Linked DNA regions of Homo sapiens. The protein of the gene in region 3 interacts with the protein of the main gene of each other region in a pairwise test. Each region holds a gene or a part of one and is shown on either strand. Other genes may lie near its edges.

The links. Proteins that work in one complex are often made in the same cells at the same time.
Region 1: the proteins of TNPO3 (region 3) and PPP1R1C interact in binary tests that used the Homo sapiens proteins (3 or more experiments, as listed by UniProt).
Region 2: the proteins of TNPO3 (region 3) and NME1 interact in binary tests that used the Homo sapiens proteins (3 or more experiments, as listed by UniProt).

What each region holds. Positions count from the first base shown.
Region 1 is NC_000002.12:181,981,107-181,988,852, forward strand, and holds the start of PPP1R1C (protein phosphatase 1 regulatory subunit 1C), read left to right. Parts: upstream 1-4,746; 5' UTR 4,747-5,004; coding exon 5,005-5,085; intron 5,086-6,711; coding exon of another isoform or gene 6,712-6,732; coding exon 6,733-6,793; intron 6,794-7,746. UniProt on the Homo sapiens protein: May increase cell susceptibility to TNF-induced apoptosis.
Region 2 is NC_000017.11:51,156,252-51,162,668, forward strand, and holds the end of NME1 (nucleoside diphosphate kinase A), read left to right. Parts: intron 1-3,728; coding exon 3,729-3,830; intron 3,831-4,908; coding exon 4,909-5,021; intron 5,022-5,476; coding exon 5,477-5,594; 3' UTR 5,595-5,917; downstream 5,918-6,417. Other genes in the region: NME1-NME2 protein, read left to right, coding at 3,729-3,830, 4,909-5,021. UniProt on the Homo sapiens protein: Major role in the synthesis of nucleoside triphosphates other than ATP. The ATP gamma phosphate is transferred to the NDP beta phosphate via a ping-pong mechanism, using a phosphorylated active-site intermediate.
Region 3 is NC_000007.14:129,051,930-129,060,071, reverse strand, and holds the start of TNPO3 (transportin-3), read left to right. Parts: upstream 1-4,960; 5' UTR 4,961-5,301; coding exon 5,302-5,421; intron 5,422-8,142. UniProt on the Homo sapiens protein: Importin, which transports target proteins into the nucleus. Specifically mediates the nuclear import of splicing factor serine/arginine (SR) proteins, such as RBM4, SFRS1 and SFRS2, by recognizing phosphorylated SR domains.

The DNA.
Region 1 (7,746 bases), on a different chromosome or scaffold from region 3:
TTTAGTAGAGACGGGGTTTCACCGTTTTAGCCGGGATGGTCTCGATCTCCTGACCTCGTGATCCGCCCGCCTCGGCCTCCCAAAGTGCTGGGATTACAGGCGTGAGCCACCGTGCCCGGCCAAGGAGAAGTTTTAAAGAACACAGTAGGCACTAAATAAATGTGGAATGAATGAATCATTGATGTTTGCCTTTAAGCCTGATAGAGATTGCAAGTATTTTATACTTAAGTGCTGTGGGAATTCAGATTTTAATATGAGATTGCAATATAGTGAGCTTAGTCTGGTAAGGCTTCTTATAGCTGTAGATCTGAAAAAATATCATATTTAAAATTGCATGGTTGAACTTATAGGACATTCTGAAAGAGTTAAAATATGGCTAATAATTTCCATGGGGGAAATTTAATTTAAATGAGCACTTGGAAAGAGTGGTTCATTTCACTTATATTACTGGGATTCGACCACATTTTATAGATAGGCCTCTTTGCCTCAATTAGGTATCAATGGTTCAGTAATAATTTAATATTAATATGAAGGTTTTGGAGTTCTCCAACAGGTTACATTGAATATAATTGAGATAATTCTATGAAAGCCCAATAATATTGTCACTCTCCCATGCATCTGTTTTCTTTGATGGAGGAAATGAATGAAGTTACAACTAGAATTGAAGGAGGACATACAAGGGAGTGCATCTGAAATGTGACTGCCAGCATTTGGGTTTTAAATAGAAGAGACAGAAAATCATTGCATTAGGGCTAGAAATCTTTTCAATGGACTCATATCTAGATGATATTGTATTTTTTCTGCTTTTGTTCATTATTGTATTTCCAGCATTTAATGTAGTCATGTGTAATACATATTTGCTTTTATTTTTGATGGCATTTAGTTAGCCAACCAATTGTTAAACAAAGTCACGTCTCATATATCTGCATAACTTTCAAGATTCATGAATTCAAGATATTTAAAACAAAGCCTGGAATAGAAAATACATTAAAAAGTTTAAAAATTTGCTTTTCCCTCTCCACCCCTCTCCTCTCTTCCCCTTTCTTTCCCTTCTCTTCCCTCAAAGAAAGCACTTGTTAATATCAGGTAACAATTAAAAAACAAGTATTGACAGTTATCAGATAAAGAAAAATAACTCTAAAAACAGTCATAAGAACTATGTATCTATGGTATTTGGAGGCAGTTACTATAGCAAGAAATACTAACAGCAAGGTGTAGGGCTTGAAAGGGTGAGCCATAGTCTTTTGGAAAATTCAGTTTATTGGAACACCTTACGTTTCTTGATAGTATTAGATAAAGCCTAATTGGACTTATTTAGTAACTACTAGATGACGAGCATCTTGCTTGTTATGTTTATGTTTAAGATAGGATGGGATTTGCAGTCTAGGAGAAGAGGCAAAAGAAACACATAGGAAATTATTATAGAATAACATAAAACTATATATAATTAAATACCAGGAGAGGGAACAAATTGAGTGATTCTTCTTGTGTGGAGAATCTGAAGGTCTCTTTCTAAGGAGGTGGAATTAGAGAATGAATATAATTTGGGTTAAAAAAGGGAGCGGGGAGGCAGGATGGCTTCCAGGGAGGTAGGGGAGGCCACAGAAAGACTGGTGGTAAGGTGAACTGCGGCAGCCTGTAGGAGGGTCTTGAGGAATCATGCAAAGTAGGGCAAGATAGATATTATAGTGTAAAATCAGGAAGGCCTAATGGCCTATTTTCCTAATGTTTTTCCATCTTTACTCCAGTATCACTTACTTTGAAGAGAGACTATAGTTGTTGCTTGTTCTAGAGGCCTTTTTAATCTTTAATGATTGAACCCATTACTTTTAAAGAGCAACGGAGAGGATTCCTTTTTCAGTCAGTTTGGTGGTACAACATCCAACTTTAGGCTCTCCTTTCTATATTGATATCTAATTTGCAATGATTGAGTATCTTGATTAATAGTATCCTAGTCATGCTACTTGCTTCTCTTTCATTCATATACCACGTCATCTTAAGATCTTTTACCATGGAATTGATGTGGTCAGAACCTCTAACCACTGCGGAGATTCTGTTGACTGCCACTGACTTCTCTACTGGCCTTATATTATAGTGGCCATCATGATGCTGTTGTGATTAAAAGCCCAAGCCCTATGCAAAATTGCCCGGGTTTGAAACTGGGCTTTGCCATATATTAGCTGGATGACCCCGGACAAATTATCTAAACTCTCTGACTCCCGATTACCTAATTTTAAATTGAGGATAGCAATAATATCTACCTCAAACAGTTGTCGGAATAAATTAATGCAGATAAAGCACTTAGAATAATTCCTGGCACATGGTATCATATAAGGGTTAATTATTACTCTTGTCTCTAATAGGGATAAAAAAATGTGCACTTAATATTTAGGAAAATTATACCCCCCATGCAAACTCTATATTAACATTTTTTAGATTATTTTACATTTAAGTTGCATTTTAAGTAGTTCTTCAAGTAAGAATTTAGCTTTAAAAGGACTTCAAATACCTTTTAACACAATCTCTCCTCTAGTGCCATAGCAAAAGGCCTGGTGTGGAGTAGACTATAGTATCTACTCAACAAATATTTGCTATGTGAATAAATAAAGTTGCAAAATACTAAACATTCAAAAGACATGTAGGTAGTTATTATGATAAATAGAGTTATGCTTCATTCTTTAAGAATACAGAGAGGTGAGTTTAAACCCAATGTGGAGAACAGTAAATCTACAAAGGCTTCCTAGAAGCAATGATACTTAACTGAATCTTAATGGACACACAGGAGTTGGCCTCATAAAAAACAAGAAGCTTAAAGGGTCTAGATAGCCCATTTACAATATTGTCTCTGATCAACCTATTCAAAATAGGGCAATTAGTTAATGAGAACCATTTTATTGGTATTTATACCAAACACATATATGAAATTTCACTTTATCACCTATTATTCTAAGTGGAATCAAATTATTCCAAGTAGATAGATATTCTTAGTGATTCTGGTTGAAAATGTGTATGTTGAAGCCTTTTGAAAAATCTGGCTGAAAGAAAAATAATAGCTATCTTTTATTGAGTGATTCCGTGCTGGCCTTGTAATGAGCTCTTTTCAGGAATTGAGTAATCTAAACCTCACAAGAAGAAAGTTCTCCTACTGCCCAAACTGATAAACTTGGTAAGTAGCAGAGCTAGAGCTTGAACTCAAGGTTGCCAAGTGCATGTTCTTAATTATTACATTATGTGAAGTTTTGTATTAACTCCTCACTAAAAATACTGTCTTGTCTTGCTTTCCTTTTATATAATTTGAAGATATATTCAAAGAAATAACTTCATTAATGATATCAATTTAGATTTTATTTCTGGAGACTTTTGTAAACTGTTACATAAAATGTAATTTATAAATTTCCCTTCGACACTACACGGATAAACTCATCACAAGATTTCTTGCTAGTCAGCACTGTTCTCCACTAAAAGTGCTTTCACATCCACATCTTTGCTTTTTCCCCTAGTGAATATAGAAAACTACTTCAATAATGCATATTCCTTTCTATATTCCTTCAACAGAATGTTGCCTATTTAAATCATTAAGATGGATTCCTAGTACAGAATCAAAATTTAAAAAATAAAAACTTCAATTGTAAATACCTGGAATCATAGTCGATGTCTAAATATATTAAGTACATCCAAAAACATATTTACAAATCTAGTATTCATCACATAATGCCTCTCAAGAAAGCAGAGATCTCAAGCAGTTTCATTTTCACACTTCCTTCATAAAAGTATTCGAATGCATGAAGGCCATCTGGCTATGTTACTACCTCCCCTTTAACATTAACTAATGTGGCAATCAGGCTAGTGTCCCACTGTTCCCTGACCACTAGCCAATATCAACCCTCTGAACATTACCCACTTCATGCTTTTTTCAAGTCCTTATCTTTACATACATTTCTACTGTTGACAACAAGCCATAATGTTGACTACCATTAGGTTTCTACTAATGTTTTCCAGTCATATTCTTCCAAGTCAGAGAATGTAACTGGCTCCACCAGGAAATAAAATAGAGGTCATTGAAGCAGCAGTGACTTCCAAGCTGTTTGCTAAATTTAGCAGCACAATACTTTCCACTCTAATGAAAACTGTGAACTGCAATTTTAGAATGTTGGAACAGGATGGGACTTTAAAGGTCATTGAGTCCAATCCCCTCATTTTTCTGATGGAAGTGTGGAGGCCTAGACGTAGCCAGTAATTTTCTGGAGGCCACAGAGCTTGTTAATTATGAAGATGGAACTCGAACTAAGATCTGCTCAGCCCTGCAGTAATGCTGCCCTCACTACACCACAGATGCTCTGCCTCCTAGGATGAGTTTAAACTAACCAGATCTTATAGCATAAACATAGCTGATATTATTGGTTGTGGCTTACCCTCCATGGCCATTCAACTGTTTCGTGGCTGAATGTGAAATAGCAAAGGTATCTGACTTATAAGTTGCTGAGAGAAATGATTCCATACCTAAACCCTGCCCCCAACTCTAAAAACTTCCTGCTTGATGTTCATCAATAATGAATGGCCCATCCCTGCAATACTCAGAGGGAGCTTACATTGCACTTTTGAGCAGCCGGTTAGTAATGTACAGTGGATAGAGCCTTTCTTTCAAATCCCAGGGCAGTGGGTCCTTCAAGGCTAGCATTGCATTTTCAATTAGCTGCTGAGTGAATGCTTGGCATGTGTATTAGTGAAGAGGCACACAATTAGCGTATTGTTCCTTTCTGTATTGTGCTGAGAGGATCCAAGGGATTGGTGGGGGAACAGGCAAGCCAGGCATCACCGTGGATGTTGAAGAAGGGGGTTACTCAAACCTCGGCATCTTCACTTGCTCGATCTGGAATTACAGCTATTTATTACGAAGCACTCTGTGTGGCTTAGTGGAGTGTGTCTGAGGAAACACATCCCGGACACCACTTAGGGTTAGTCTTTCTGAGCTCTTCACATCTCTGACTAATTATCATCATTACCATGGAGCCCAACAGTCCCAAAAAGATACAGTTTGCCGTGCCTGTATTCCAGAGTCAGATTGCACCTGAAGCAGCAGAGCAGGTATGTGAAATTGCATGGAGAACCATTCCTGTACATAAGGTAATATGAACATGCATTCTGGTTATTAATTGAAAGGTTCTTTACCTTTTGATTTTGCTAACTCTGACTTTCAAGATAATGTAAACAAGAAATAAGTTGGTTTTTACACATACTTGTATTTAAATTGCATTGGGAGAACTATTGTCTAAAATGTAACACTTCATTTGATACAAAATTAGCACCTCTGAGGGGAAAATGGCTCTGTAAGCAATTCAGATATGGATTCATAAATCTGTTCATTTTTGCTCATTAAAATAACAGTTTCAACATTTAGAGCAACTTTTAAAAATTATCAAAATGAGCAACATTTTATTTCATTTTTTATAAAATAAAATGATTGATTTAGCAATAAAATCATTAAATCCTGCAATAGTTTGAGACTATAGGCCTAATACTTTATTTTCATATGTTTTATTATTGTGGACACAAAACAATGATTATAAGTTTATATAATATATTACAGCTAGGATTTGTAGCTTTTTGTACAGTTTTAAAATCGTTTTGTTCAGACATTACAAACAGTGTTTTAACATTTCCTAGATTCTTTGTCCATGTCTAATATTGGTTTACATCTGTATCACCTTTCATATTCAGATTTACTTAGATTCTTGATGCAATGGCATCTCTTAGAACTGCAACTGTGAGGAGGCAAAAGCAAAGAAATTTATGAGGACATCAACCTAATCCATTCATTTCTTAAAACTTAAATTATTCTTGAATCCTTTTCCAAGTATTTGATATAAAGTCTTAAAAATAATTATTTAATCCGTGACTCATAGTGTTTCAGGATGTTTTGAAATCTGAGGTAGATGCACCTAGACTCAGGCCAGATAAATGTATCCTTGAACATGTGTCTATCCATGCTGAATGGGATGTTGCTTCTATCTTGGACAGGATGTCATTGATAAATTTTATTATCTATCCTACTGACACTTACTTTGGGTATTTACCCATAAATGAATATAATAAACAAATAAAGGATATTATATTCAAGGGATTCTGACAATACTATGCTCCTGTAACTCTTAAAATGAAAAAAAAAAACTTTAGAGTTTGTAATAAGTTGCATATTCTCATAAGATCCATATTTATTCTTCATTTGTTTATTTGTTCTAAATATTATACTAGAAAATAAAAAAGTTAACAAAATTAATTGAAATTCAAAGCTTATGCTGTTGATTTAACTCTGGTACCTGCTAGAAATAGGTTTCCAAGCTCTTCCTTATCCTGTTTAAAAATAAGGGTAATGAATCTTGAAAGCACCACCAATGTTATGAGGCTCCAAGCAAGCCACTAACATTATCAGGTCAACCCTGTACCTTCATTGTAAATTAATTTTCTGTTGTATCATTCAGTTGTATATAATTATTTCTTTTCCGTGGAAATGTAGCTTTTTGGTCAAAGAGGGTGATACTTCTATCAGACAGTTCAATTCTGTGGCTTTCTATTATTTCAAAATAAAATTAGTGAGCACCTTCCATGTGTCCTCCAGAAATTTGCTTTTGCATGTGGGGAAAAGATGAGGGTGAGACAGCTTTGCAAGCTGCAGAGTAACCTGGAGCAGTGTCTAATACTCACTGATATTAGCTGGGCTTTTGTCGTTCACAGATCAGGAAAAGAAGACCTACACCAGCATCACTTGTGATTCTCAATGAGCATAACCCCCCAGGTAAAGAAGCATGATGTGTTTCACACTGATGGAACAGAATGGAATTGTTTAAAGAACATCAAAGTACATGTCGTACTGAAAAGTTTCAATTTAGGATTTCACAGTTAGCAATACTCTAGAAAGCTAATCTATAAAATGGATCGTAAACAGAATCAGAAATAAATATTACAGGAATAATCTCAAGCCACAGCCTGTATTTCCTCTAGAATATCATAAGTGATGATATGCTATGAAATATTTTGCTAGCACTGGCTGTCATATGTTCAGGTGTTTGTATGGAACCTGGATTACTGCTTATTAATGAGGCTGGTGGAAAGCTGTTTAATTAGGTTTAAAAGCTCAAATTACAGCCCTAGAGATGCTTATATCTTTACAGAGTAAGTTTTTTATATGGAAAAGGTTGACATGGGGTGGGCAATGACCCAGCGTTGGCTTCAGCTTTGCTGATGACGTCATCTCTGAATAATGCAATTGACAAGTAACCAGATCAATTTTCAGCACTGCCTATTTGAGAGCCATTCTGAATGGCTGAATCCATTTGTTGAGGTTTTATTTTCCATTTCCTGTAAAAATGAAAACCGCATTATTATTCCGGATAAAAGACTATGATCTGTAATCCACAAACATTATTTACTTATTGAAGCGGGGTGATTTTTAGTCTCACATTTAAGTGCTGCTTCTGGATATACAAGTAGGATAGGAAAGGTCATGACATTAATTTGCAACCAGGCAGAACTTGGTGTTGGATTTTTTTGCAGGTATAAACAATAATGGGTGGACAAAAGGAGTTTAAACAGTGGAAACATAATATGTCTAATAATAGACTGTAGCGAGTGATCTAAGAATACCAGGGTGAAATAGTCCTTGACTTTTTCAGACTCTTTTCTAATTAGAGAAACATATAAAAAGAACGTAAACTAATAGGCTATTCATCATTTAGCCCAAATCCAAGA
Region 2 (6,417 bases), on a different chromosome or scaffold from region 3:
ATGGTTTTGGTTTTGGGGAGGTTCTTCAGAAACAGCAGAGAGCAGATGTACCTGCAAGCTACTTACAAAGCAATCTTTTGATAAATGCAAAGGATTGATTGACCAATAACCCTTCTTCAAACAAATTCTAGAGATAATCCAAATTCTCGGCTGGGTGAGGCATAGTGGCTCATACCTGTAATCCCAGCACTTTGGGAAGCCAAGGCAGGCTGGTCACTTGAGGTCAGGAGTTCAAGACCAGCCTGGCCAACATTGTGAAACCCCGTCTCTACTAAAAATACAAAAATTAGCTGGGCATCAGGGTGGGTGCCTGTAATCCCAGCTATTCGGCAGGCTGAGACATAAGAATTGCTTGAACCAGCCAGGTGCGGTGGCTCATACCTGTAATCCTAGCATTTTGGGAGGCTGAGGCGGGCGGATCACCTGAGGTCAGGAGTTCGAGACAGCCTGACCAATATGATGAAACCCCGTCTCTACTAAAAATACAAAAATTAGCCAGGCGTGGTGGCATGCGCCTGTAATCCCAGCTACTCGGGAGGCTGAGACAGGAGAATCGCTTGAACTGGGGAGGTGGAGGTTGCAGTGACCGAGATCGCATCATTGCACTCCAGCCTGTGCAACAAGAGCAAAACTCCATCTCCAAAAAAAAAAAAAAAAAAGAATTGCTTTTGAACCCAGGAGGCGGAGGTTTCAGTGAGCCGATATTGCACCACACTGCAGCCTGGGCAACAGAGGGAGGGAGACTCTGTCTCAAAAAAAAAAAAAGAATTCCAATTCTCAAATCAAATAGGGGATAGTATGTTTTCTAAAAGGGAATCAATTTTGGACCCTTCTAGTGCATTTTAAAATTTAGTTTGACTTGCAATTTACTTCCTATGTGATATTTTAGAAAAACTGCTTTAGGGCTGGCACAGTGACTCGCCTGTCATCCCAGCACTTTGGGAGGCTCCGTCTCCAAAAAAAAAGAAAAAAAAGAAAAGAAAAACTGCTTTAATGTAAAAGAGGGTAGACTGATGTTCATGCTGAGAGGAGAATATGGTGTCCAAGGTCAAGGAGCTGGCATCTAATGAAGGTTTTCTTGCTGTATCATCCCATGACAGAATGGAATAGCAAGAGAGTGCAAGAGTGAGAGAGAGCAAGAGGGGGCTGATGTTGATTTTATAACAAACCCACTCCTGAGATAAGACATTAATCTGTTCATGAGGGTGAAGCCCTCATGACCTAAACACCTCCCATTAGGCCTCACCTCCCAACATTGTTGCATCGAGGATTAAATTTCCAACATACGAACTTTGGGGGACACATTCAGATCACAGCAGAAGGTAACATGAGATGGATGTGTTGTTGATCAGGCATTTACCATATGCTGGGCACATATGTTTTCTGATTTAGTCTTCATGCCAGCCTTGAGAAGTACTTACTCCTGTTCTCGTGGTTGTTAGTGATGAGCAACCTAAGGCTTGGAGAGGTTCAGTGATGTGCCTGATAGCATACAGTGATGCCACTGGAATTTTAACTTGAGTCTCTCTGACCCCTGAGTGCAGATACTTTCTCCTTTACATTGAATTTCCTATTAAGGATATATGGGTTTGGTGAAGAATGGACGGAAGGATAGCTGCCATGACTCTAAAGGGGCATTTAAATCTGGTGTGGAGGCAGGAAGCAAGGGAGAACTTGAGGTTCCCAACCCCCAAGCCCTTAAAAAAAGCCCGTGATCTGTTTTGCAGACTAAAGATAATCAGTTAGGGCCTGGCGTGGTGGCTCACACCTGTAATCCCAGCATTTTGGGAGGTCAAGGTGGGTGGATCATCTGAGGTCAGGAGATGGAGACCAGCCTGGCCAACGTGGTGAAACCCCGTCTCTACTAAAAATACAAAATTTAGCTGGGTGTGATGGCGCATGCCTGTAGTCCCAGCTACCAGGGAGGCTGAGGCGAGAGGATGGCTTGAACTCGGGAGGTGGAGGTTGCAGTGAGCGGAGATCGAGCCACTGCACTCCAGCCTGGGTAACAGAGCAAGACCCTGTCTCAAAAAAAGATAATTAGCCGGGTGTAGTGGTGCACACCTGTAGTCCTAGCTACTGAGAATCTGAGGCAAGAGGATTGCTTGAGCCTGGGAGTTTGAGGCCGCAGTGAGCTATGATCATGCCATTGCACTCCAGCCTGGGTGACAGAAAGACCCTGTCTCAAAACAAACAACAAAACCAACAAAAAGATAATTGGAACCAATTAATAGAATTAAAAAAGTATTCTGATAAGGGAAGGTCACCTCAGGGTCTGTTAGACTTCCACAACAAAAGTCTTCCATTTGGATAGGAAAGGACAGGGCGAGGGTTGGATCCCTACCACGGAGTGATTATATGGCCATGTAATTTTACTTTGGCAAGTGATGATAACTGGTGGCTGAATGATGGGGCTTCTGGGCAGCCAGTCTCCACATCTGTGTGTGTCTCTGATGTGTGTGATATGCGTCATACAGTGCAGTACCACAGAGCTGGAAAAACCATGGGACCCTGTTAGATTTTAACAAGCGTATATGCAGTACAAGAGAGAACACAGCCAAACTGAGTTGAAACTGCTAAGCAGATGGTTTGTTCTCTAGCTAACTTGATTCGTTCCCACATATTAGCCTTGCAGTATGAGAGGTTCTAATTCATTTTTCAGCAAAATTATTTATTACTAGATGTCATGCACTTTTGGGTGATTTGCAGATACCTTTGGTAATCACATGGTCATCACTGCTGGGCTTTTATCCTCTGAATAAACGTGAAGCATCCCTGGGTAATGGCCTGGTTTAGTTTGCTGCTCATTAAATGCCAAGACTTGCTTCCTGGTGTCCTTCTAACATTTTATTTGGGGTTTGCTCTGGGAATGGAAATTTATTGTATTGTTGATTTTCCTGTCTAAAATGAGATAGTTGAGGGCCAGGCATGGTGGGTCACGCCTGTAAGCCCAGCACTTTGGGAGGCGGAGGCTGGAGGATCACTTGAGTCCAGGAGTTTGAGACCAGCCTGGGCAACATAGTGAGACCCTATCTCTACAAATAATTTTTTAAAATTAGCCAGGTATGGCTGGGCGCGGTGGCTTACGCCCGTAGTCCCGGCCCTTTGGGAGGCCAAGGCAGGCAGATCACCTGCGGTCACCTGAGACCAGCCTGGCCAACATGGCGAAACCCTGTTTCTACTAAAAATACAAAAATTGGCCAGGCATGATGGCCGCCACCTGTAATCCCAGCTACTTGGGAGGCTGAGGCAGGAGAATCACTTGAACCCAGGAGGTGGAGGTTGCAGTAAGTCAGGATCACGCCACTGCACTCCAGCCTGGGTGACAGAGGGAGACTCTGTCTCAAAATAAATAAATAAATAAATAAAATTAGCCAAGTCTGGTAGTGTGTGTCTACAGTCCTACCTACTCGGGAGTCTGAGGCAGGAGGATCACTTGAGCCCAGGAGTTTGATTTTTTTTTAAATGAGATAGCTGGATTTAATTTTAATGTTCTGTGGTTTTATTATCAGTCAGTGCCAATAGGGAGACAACTGATATAAAATTGGAGAAGTACATTTAGTCCTGTCACTGCTCCCTTCCAGTGTGGAGAATGAATTGGGTTATAACAGAATCAGTGAGCCCAACCGCTCATGTTTTACATAGCAGGGTGGATGAGGGGAAATTAAATGGATTATATGTCCTTAGATGGTTTGGGGGTTATTCTCATTCTCTGTCCTGTTGAATAGGCTTCCGAAGATCTTCTCAAGGAACACTACGTTGACCTGAAGGACCGTCCATTCTTTGCCGGCCTGGTGAAATACATGCACTCAGGGCCGGTAGTTGCCATGGTGAGTGTGCCTGTGTGGGATACTCCAAGTATGCATTGCTTGTCATCTGTGCTAGGCTCTCTTCTAGACACTGGGGATACAGCCATGAATGAGACCAAATAGATACCTGTTTTCATATACCAGCTAATGGTTAGTGATAGGCTTCAGAAATGAAATATGCCCAGAAATGAATAGGAGTAGCAAATGATCACTTTAGATTGGGTGATCAAAGAACGCAATTTTTAAGCTGTGATCTGAATGACAAGAAGCAGCGATCTGAATGACAAGAAGCAGCCAGCCATGTACAGAATCACAGTGAAAAACATTTCCAGCCAAGCAAACAGCATGTGCAAAGGTCCCAGGGTGGGAATGAGCTTGGCTTTTTGAAGTACGGGAGGAGAGTTGAAATGCCCGAAGCCTGATGGGTGGGAGGGAAGTTGGGAGGTGAAGAGTTCAGAGGCATGGGCAGGGGCCTTCTCTCTTAGGGGTGTGTTGACCATATACTTCCTGAGTGCTGGGAAGCTATGGGACACTTCACACTTGGCATTTCTTTTTTTTTTTTTTTTTGAGACGGAGTCTTGCTCTGTTGCCCAGGCTGGAGTGCAGTGGTGCCATCTCGTCTCACCGCAAGCTCCACCTCCCGGGTTCACGCCATTCTCCTGCCTTAGCCTCCTGAGTAGCTGGGACTACAGGCGCCCGCCACCACGCCCAGCTAATCTTTTCGTATTTTTAGTAGAGACAGGGTTTCACCATGTTAGCCAGGATGGTCTCGATCTCCTGACCTCGTGATCCACTCCCCTCAGCCTCCCAAAGGGCTGGGATTACAGGCGTGAGCCACTGCGCCCTGCCCACACTTGGCATTTTAAGGAGGCTGCTCTGGTTGCTGTATGGAGAATACATTGTAGAAAGGCAAGCATGAGGGCAGGGAGATCAGGATCCTCAGTGCTGGAATAAGTGGATATACTCTATAAACATTTGTTCAGTGAATGAATATAATCTTAAGGGGCCTTTTTATTTTTCCTTTTTTGAATTAATAGTTGCCAGATTTTCTGCTGTGATTGGTTTTCTTCTTTGACCATATCTTCTTCTGTCCTTGGAGGTCTGGGAGGGGCTGAATGTGGTGAAGACGGGCCGAGTCATGCTCGGGGAGACCAACCCTGCAGACTCCAAGCCTGGGACCATCCGTGGAGACTTCTGCATACAAGTTGGCAGGTGAGATTTTGGTATTTTTCCCCCTTTTCCAAAATCTGATTTAGTTGCCACAAGGATTTGGGTTTCCGAGGCTGGAGGTAGACATGATACCATATGCAGGTTGATTTTATCGGAGTTTATTGTTTTCCTCCCTCTTAAGTTGGCGTTTGGCTTTGGTTGTTAACATCACTTAGTCGTACCTCTGTTACACGAAGTGTAGAACCTGGTACAACACACTTTGCTGGCCAGTCTTTCCTGAAGGCTCTCACTGTTTGCACCAGCGTGGCCGGGAGGGCTGGATGTGGGGAGGGCATTTTTCAGCCTTAAGTGAATGGCCATTGTAGGCTTTTTCTTTTAACATGGTCTAATGTCCATGGAGCTTCAGCTTTTATGCTGCTGTGGCTGTAGATTTCTGGCAATGGGCGCATTTTAATCCTTCTGGTCTTGGTCATGTGACTATCTCTTTCTCCACCCAGGAACATTATACATGGCAGTGATTCTGTGGAGAGTGCAGAGAAGGAGATCGGCTTGTGGTTTCACCCTGAGGAACTGGTAGATTACACGAGCTGTGCTCAGAACTGGATCTATGAATGACAGGAGGGCAGACCACATTGCTTTTCACATCCATTTCCCCTCCTTCCCATGGGCAGAGGACCAGGCTGTAGGAAATCTAGTTATTTACAGGAACTTCATCATAATTTGGAGGGAAGCTCTTGGAGCTGTGAGTTCTCCCTGTACAGTGTTACCATCCCCGACCATCTGATTAAAATGCTTCCTCCCAGCATAGGATTCATTGAGTTGGTTACTTCATATTGTTGCATTGCTTTTTTTTCCTTCTTTTCATGTACACTGAATAACCTGACCTAATAGAGAGTGTAAATACTATAAAAATGATTTATTTTGAGGTCTCACATACACACAGGCATTCTTTGCCTGCCCTTCTTAACCCCCGCATCCCTTCCACTCTTGGCACTGAGCTATTCAACAGGCATCTATGGAGCATGTGCTACGTGGCCAAGACTGGACTAGGTGCAGAGGATTCATCAGAAATGAAAGAAAACATGAGGGCTGGGTGTGCTGGCTTGTGCTTGTGATACCAGCTACTTGGGAGGCTGAGATGGGAGACCAGCCTGGGTAACATAGCAAGACCCTGTCTCACTAAAAAAAAAAAAAGAAAAATTAGGCTGGGTACGATGGCTCATGCCTTTAATCCCAGCTATTCAGGAGGCTGAGGAGGAGAATCGCTAGAGGCCAGAAGTTCAAGTCCAGGGTGGGCAACATAGCAAGACGCTGTCTTTACAAAAAAAAAAAAAAAAAATTAGCTCTGGTGCTGTGCACCTCTAGTCCTAGCTATTGGGAAGGCATAGGCAGGAGGATTGTGCCCAGGAGTCCAAGGCTGCAGTGAACCATGATCATG
Region 3 (8,142 bases):
GTATTTTCTAACAATATTCGACATCTCTGGTGCATTTATTTGGTGCTTAAAGATGCGCGTCTCAATCACTCCTTTGTCTTTAGCCACCAACTAGAAACTGACAACTCGCAAATCTGGATTTTCAACCCACCCCCTGGGCTTCAGTCCCACACATGCTACAGCCTGCTGGTCTTGGCTGTCTGTTAAGTGCCTCAATATTCAACATGGCTAAGATTAAACTTATCTTCATCCTCATATCCCTTTCTGTTTCCATAAAAGCCATTTCTTCCTTTAGGTTCCATATCTCAAAAGCCTGGGTTTTCTTCCCTCTTGTCACACCTTGCAGCTTAAGTAATCACCATATCAAGATTCTTCCTCTGAAGTTCCTAAATACCTCTCTATCTCCATGCCCACCGCCAACACTTTACTCCAGGCTACCATCACTCCTCACCACGATTATTACAATCTTTTCTTATTTCTGTTCTAGCCACCTTCCCTGCCCAAGCCATTTCATGTCAAACTAGACTTTTTTTTTTTTTAAGACTAAGGAACAAAGAAACATGTCACTTAAGACATTTGCTAAGCACCCACTATGTATCAGGTAATGGCATGAGGTCACAAAGATGGGTTAAACACTGTTTAGCTTCATTTCTTACTCCTACCCAATGTCAACTCTATCCTTCAGCTACTTTCAGTCTTCAGAAGGTAATTTTTTCCCTTGCCTCCAGGCTTTCATACTGTTGCCTCTGCCTACAATACTAAACCCTTTGCCTAATTGCTTCCTATTTATCTATCAGTCTGGTCTCAGTTTAGACATAATTTCTCCAGATGGTGTTACCAATCTCTCTACTCTGGGTTAGGTATCACCTCTATTTTTTTTTCTTTTTTCTCCAACTGTTAGCTAAATATCCATGTGGTGTTTTAATAATTCCTAACCATAGAACTTTTAAAAATAAGTTTTATTGAAATATAGTTCACATTGCCATAAAACTCATCCTTTTAAAACATATAAAAAACATATGCCAGTGGTTTTTAATATATTCATGAGGTTTTTCTGAACATCGTCAATAATTCCAGAGCATTTATTTCCATCAATACAAAAAAAAACAAAACCCAAAACAAAAAACCAACCCTGGAAATGACCAATCTACTGTCTATATTTAGAATTTTGCCTACTCTGAACATTTTATGTAAATAGAATCGCGTAATTAATGTGCCTTTTGTGTCTGGCCACTTTCACTTAGCATAATTTTTCAAGTTTATCTATATTGTAGCATCTATCTGTACTTCATTCCTTTTAAGGGTCAAATAACCTTTCATTGTATGGATATAGCACACTTTGTTTATCCATGCATCAAATGACGGATATTGGGGCTGTTTCTGCCGTCTATTATGAATAATGCTGCTATGAATATGCACGTGCAAGTGCTTGTATGCACACACGTTATCATTTCTCTTGAGTATATACCTAAGTGTAGAACTGCTGGTTCATATGATAATTCTATGTTTAACATTTTTTTGAAGAGCTGCCAAACTTTTTCAACATGGCCGCACCATGATACAATCCCATGAATAGTGCATGAGAGTTCTGATTTGTCCACATTCTCACCAGCATTTATCATTTTTTAAATTTTAGTTTTTCTAGTGGGTGTGAAGTTGTATCTCATTGCAGTTTTGATTTGTATTTCCCTGAGGGCTAATGATGAGCATCTTTTCATGTGCATTTGTATATCTTCTTGGAAGAAATGTCTATTCAAATTCACTGCCCATTTAAAAAACTGAATTATCTGAGGCCAGACATGGTGGCTTACGCCTGTAATTCCAGCACTTTGAAAGGCTGAGGCGGGTGGATCACTTGAGGTCAGGAGTTCGAGACCAACCTGGCCAACGTGGTGAAGCCCTGTTTCTACTAAAAATACAAAAATCAGCCAGGCATGGTTGTGGGCACCTGTAATCCCAACTACGTGGGAGGATGAGGTACAAGAATCGCTTGAACCCAGGAGGTGGAGGTTTCAGTGAGCTGAGATTGTGCCATTGTACTCTAGCCTGGGCAACAGAGCAAGACTCCAACTCAAAACAAAAAAACAAAACACACACACACACACACACACACACAAAACAAACCCAAAAACTGAGTTGTCTTTTCATTGTTGAATTGTAAGAGTTCTTTATATACTCTGGATACTAATCAGTTATCAGATATGTTATTTGCACATTCCCTTCCATGTTGTGGACTGTTACTTCACTTTCTTGATAGTGTCCTTTGATACACACAAAAAAATTTGTTTTGAGATATGGTCTCACTGTTTCCCAGGCTGGAGTGCAGTGGCACAATCTCTGCTCACTGCAACCCCCACCTCCTGGGCTAAAGCAATACTCCCACCTCAGCCTCCTGAGTAGCTGGGATTAGAAGCACCCACCACCATGCCCTGCTAATTTTTTTGCATTTTTTTTTGTAGAGATGGAGTCTCATTTCATTACCCAGGATGGTCTTGAACTCCTGGCCTCAAAGGTAATCCTCTTGCCTCGGCCTCCCAAAATGCCGGGATTACACAGTTGTGAGCCACCAAGCCCAGCACTAAATTTTTTTTTAATGAATGAATGGATTAGGTAACCAAAATATCAAGTTTCTTTTTTCTGTCTAAAATTGTATCAACTCTGTGCAGTAACATTGTTTTCATCATGTTGTTGGCAGTTAAAAATTCCTTGACTAACAATTCAGAAGCAAACGAATGCACAAGATGATAGGGATTGTGTGATTTAACAGGTTTTGGAGCAACACTGATCTGGATTCAAATCCTAACTTTAAGAACTGTATCCTTGGGCAAATTACATTACTATTTTTCTTTCTTTAAAATGCGTTTTTTTGTTTGTTTTTTAAGTGCCAGGGGTTTATTTCCCTCACATGTGGGATGGCTCACATACACAACACACAAAGGCGTTGGCACCGTGGGAGAGGGCAGCACCCCTGGCTTCTGCTTGGCCTCACAGTGTAAGAAGGGAGAGGATGGGTTCTCTCTCCTCCCCTCACTAGGGCCTAGGGGACCCAGGAGCAAATTCCATCCCTTTCACCTCTCAGCCAAGGAGAAGCCACATTGGTGACATTTAGTTCCAACAATTACAGTAAGTGGAGAAGGGATTGGTCTGGTCCCGACCATTACACGGTGAAGGTATACATAGTAAAGGAAGATACAGTTTGGATGAGGCCACAATAGGGTGCAGATGACACCATCAGAAGCATGTGCAGGGGAGGGGCAGTCACTCAGCTTCTGGGCTGCTTAGTTCCTGGGTTGGCAGGAAGGGTAGGGAAGACGGATGGGGCTCATTGTTTGGCATTGATGATGTCTACGAATTCGGGCTTGAGGGAAACACCACTCATGAGGAAGGCAGCCACGTCAGGCTGGCTGGCCAGCTCCTTGCAGGTTGCCTTGGTCACAGAGCCTCCATAAATGATACCAGTGCTCTGAGCCACTGCATCAGAGATGTTGGACTTAAGCCATCCTCGGAGCTTCTTGTGTACCTCCTGGGCCTGTTGGGGTGTTGCAGTCTTGCCAGTACCAGTGGCCCACACGGGATCATAGGCCAAGATGACCTTGCTCCAGTCCTTCACATTATCTGCGATGACCTTTGTCTGCTCAAAAACAACCTTCTCAGTGATGCCAGCTTCCCTTTCATCTAGCTTCTCCCCAATGCAGGCGATTACTCCGAGTCTCTCTGCCAGAGCATGGGCCACTTTTCTGCCCAATCAGCTCATCTGACTCCCCAAAGACACGCCTTCTGAGTGCCCCAGGACCACACCACCCACGTGACTCCTAAGTCTTTGACCATGCCAGGGCTGATCTCCCCAGTAAAGGCCCCATTAGTCACTTTGTAGCAGTTCTGCGGAGCCACAGCAATCTTGGGAGCTAGCTTCTGCCGGGCCAACTCGTTATACGCAGTGGCGAGAGCACAAATCACCTTGGTGTCGGCAGGCACAGTGGCCGCGTTCTGAGTGCCGATGAGCTCCCCCAGACATTTCTTCCGCCCGTTCATCTTCCAGTTCCTCCCCACGAAGAACTTCCTGGAGGGCGCCATGGCGCTGGAGCTGAGGCGCTGTAGGTCAGTGTCAGCGCCTAAAACGGGTTTTATTAATACTTGGCAAGGTTGTTAGGCGGATTAAATGAGATCTTGTAACTACAGTGTTTTACACATTGTGATCATTTATCAAATAGCAGTTATTTACTAGTGCAAAGGACTAGCAGCAATGTTAATATCAATATACTGTTACCTTTTGTCCCTAATTTCTCCATAGTACAGTTTCCAATATTTCTGTTTTCTTTTGTGAATTGTTAGACCACTGGTATTGGATTCGGACAGAAAGGCATTCACAAAAATACAGTTCAATGTGAGAATAACCCTAAAGATGTATGCAAAATGCTCTGGAGTTAGAGCACCAGGAGCTGTAAGCAGAATGAAGACCTCTTTTGGGCTTAAGAACTAAGTAAAGGGGAGCTGAACAAAGATTCTAGGCATTTTGGATTTATCTCAATGTGGCACATATTTCAGGTTTGTAAAATAGTTCAGTTGACTACGTGTCTGTCTCCTCCACTAGAGCCAGCGTAGGTACCATGTCTTAAGTCATCTTTGGATCTCCAGTACTGTGGCCACTCTAGGGAGAGTTGAATTGACGCGCCTTGATCACCAGGGCAGAAAAGGATTCTCTGGAGAGGGATGGGGCAGTCGGAAGGGGTAGGAAAAACCTGGATCCGTTTCCAAGGAGCTGAAGGCAGCTCAGATATGGGGCACATCTCGGCGCTAATGTCCCAAGCTGCTAGCGAGGAACAGAGAGAACACCGGCTCTTCTTCCCGGCTCCTGGCCCGGCAGGGTTACTTCCGGGAGGGGGCGGGGAGACAAGAGGAGGCGTGCCGGGAAGGAGGCCGTTTGTAGTGTACCAGGCGGAAGTGTGCCAAAGGTATCGGTGCTGTCGCTTCCGGTCCGGGTAAACGAACCTTAGGTACACTGGTGTGTGGCCTCCCAAGATAGGCTTCTGAGGGCAAGTCAGCGACTGAAGACGGGAGCGCCAGAATCTGTGGACTCAAGAGTCTAGAATCAAGTGGAAAAACCGGAAAAAAGGCCAGGAACCTGAATACGACCTAATAGCTGTTTCCGAGGGGGCAACTTCCACGGAGAGCCTTCTGCCCTGGTAACGGCCAAAGAGGAGGAGATGGCGCCAGTCAGGGAGCGGCCGTGGCCCAGACAGTGAGGAAGCGCGAAGGCGGAGCAACCGAGGAATCCTCCGGAGAAGAATCAGAGCCGTCGCTACCGCCACTACCGCCACCACCATGGAAGGAGCAAAGCCGACATTGCAGCTCGTGTACCAGGCAGTGCAGGCGCTTTACCACGACCCAGATCCCAGCGGAAAGGAGCGCGCCTCTTTTTGGCTTGGGGAGCTGCAGCGTTCGGTGAGGGGCCCAGAGAGGCAGTTCTGTGCCGCACGGCCGGGGCGGGGTGGAACCTAGGCTCCGGGGGAGAACCTGAGCCCGGCAGTTGACCTCGTGAGGTCCTCCTTGGGGAGGAGCTGCTGTCGTGGGGTGGGGCTGCGAAGCTACATCTTTGCCGCTTTTGGGAAACTAGTCGCACCTGATCGGTCGCGAACTGGCCCTTTCCCCACCCGGCAGAATCTGATTTGTAGGTCTTATACTCTTCGATTGTGGCATCAATCTAATCTTGTTTAAGTTCTCCCTTTGCCGTTGCTTCTTGGGCCGTGCTTTTCCGTTTTGTCTTCCTCCCACCAAATCCAACCCCAGTGTTTCTCCACCTTCCGCTTAAGAAGGCTTTATTCGTCTCCCCTCCGTGTCCAAGACTTGCATCTGGCATTTTGCTCCCAGTCGTAGCCTTATGCCTCACTCTTTTTGCCTATTTTCACTCCAGTTTGAGTCTGTTCTTCTCGAAACTTCTCAGGTTTCTAGATTCTTACTCATGCGAGTTTTCCCCTTGCTTTGGAGTGGCAACATAATATGAAGAAAAAACAGTAATTCTGCTTTCAGAAAATCTTTGGAGTTCTCATTTTGTTTCATATTAATCCTCTAACCTTGTTATTTCTCTGGCTTTTAGATTTTTATTTATAAGATGGGTATCACTGCTGCTTTGATTATTCCATATAAAACTGTGTGTGCATCCGGTGAGATATTTAATTGTAGCTTATATCTGTTGTATTTCTGCATTCTTTGATTCATGTTTTATGCTTCCTGCCCTAATTTTCACACCTTTGCTGTGCTTCATTTCTGTGTAAATGTGTATTCTTGGTTATCTGGCTGACTTAGGTTCTAATGTAGGATGTACTTTAAAAATTAAGTACTTTGAAAACTAAAGAGGCTTTTTTTACAGGCTGACAAAATACTCACCTTTACCTTTATTTTTGCATTTTATACTCACAACCATATTTTTTTTGGCCCCCTTCCCTTTATTTTAACTCATAACTGATACTTAAAGGTGCTCTGCCTTATTAAATCAGCTCCTAGGCTGCAAGTGCATAATATTTAAAAATTTGCAACTTTGACTTTTTAAAAATCTGGTCTTGGTATGGAGCAACTTTGCCTTTTTTTTTTTTTTTTTTTTGAGACAGAGTCTCGCTTTGTCGCCCAGGCTGGAGTGCAGTGGTCCCATCTCAGCTCACTGCAACCTCCTCCTCCCGGGTTCAAGAGATTCTCCTGCCTCAGCCTCCCGAGTAGCTGGGATTACAGGTGCCTGCCCTGACACCCGACTAATTTTTTTTTTTTTTTCTTGAGACAGAGTCTGGCTCTGTTGCCCAGGCTGGAGGAGTGCAGTGGTGCTATCTCGGCACACTGCAACCTCCTCCTCCCAGGTTCAAGTGATTCTCCTGTCTCAGCCTCCTGAGTAGCTGGGATTACAGGCACACGCCACCACACCCAGCTAATTTTTGTATTTTTTAGTAGAAACGGGGTTTCGCCATGTTGGCCAGGCTGGTCTCTAACTCCGACCTCAGGTGATCCGCCCGCCTCGGCCTCCCAAAGTGCTGGGATTATAGATGTGAGCCATCGCCCCCCGCTGCAACTTTGACTTTGAATATTAAACCTAAAAAACTGGCACCCAAGTCCTCTTCAGAAAATAAAGGAATACGACTCACTGTAGGCTACACAAGAAAATCATTCACATATGGTCTCATTTAGTGTTTCTGTGATCTCTGGAGAGTCAACAATTCCCTGATCTTTGTATAGTTTTCTAAAGTGTAATTAGGAGAAGTGCTACACTATACTAAAAAAGTAATCTCTTTCTAATTAAACCTGCTTGTTGTGTGTATTTTAAATCAATATTTGAGTGCTTACCATGTGCCAGCAACTATGCTGGGTGTTTGGATTTGGAAATGAACCAGACAAAAATCTCTGCTTACCACAGAAGGTAGTTGTGATTAAATGAGTTAATATTCTACGAAGAGGTTAGAAAAGTTCTTGGAACATAGAGATTAAAATGTTAGCAATTGTTATTTAAGTATTAGTCACTTTTCTCTCCTTACTTTCCAATACTCTATTACAACCTTACATCATCTTCACCATCACAGTTAATAGTCAGAGTCCAGACAGGAACAGATGGCACACTTGACAGGATAATCTGAGTTTATTTTATAAAGATACTATTATAAAGATTTAGGTATAGTGGTGTGACAAGAAATAGTTTGGTAACCTATAGCTGAACGGTTAACATCCCATAAAAGAGGGAATAGTTACTTGAAAAGTATGGAGTTGGCTGCCTTGAGAGGAATGGTGACTTTCAGCCGAAGGGACATAGCTAGTTTCAGGTGACCTTGAGAGAATGAAGCTGGAGGAATGAATATCCTGACCCTGTTCTCTTAATTTCTTGCTGGGATTCCCCATTGGCCAAACCCAACCGGAAGCCAGGGGCACAGTGACCTGTTGGTAAAGTCTATACAGGTCAGCCTATTGGAGCAGAAAACATGATAGAGGAGGGTGGAAAAGTGGATCTGGAAAATATCCAGCAGTAACACATCACGTTTAGGCAACTTCAGCATCTGGATTGACAGTTCAGCTAACACTTTGGCCTTCTGATTCCTTTACCTCTTCATTCTCTTTAGCCACCTGGTCACACAATCACACCCTGGATCTTGTCTTTACTAAAAAGCCACCACCCAGGCTGGGCGTGCAGTG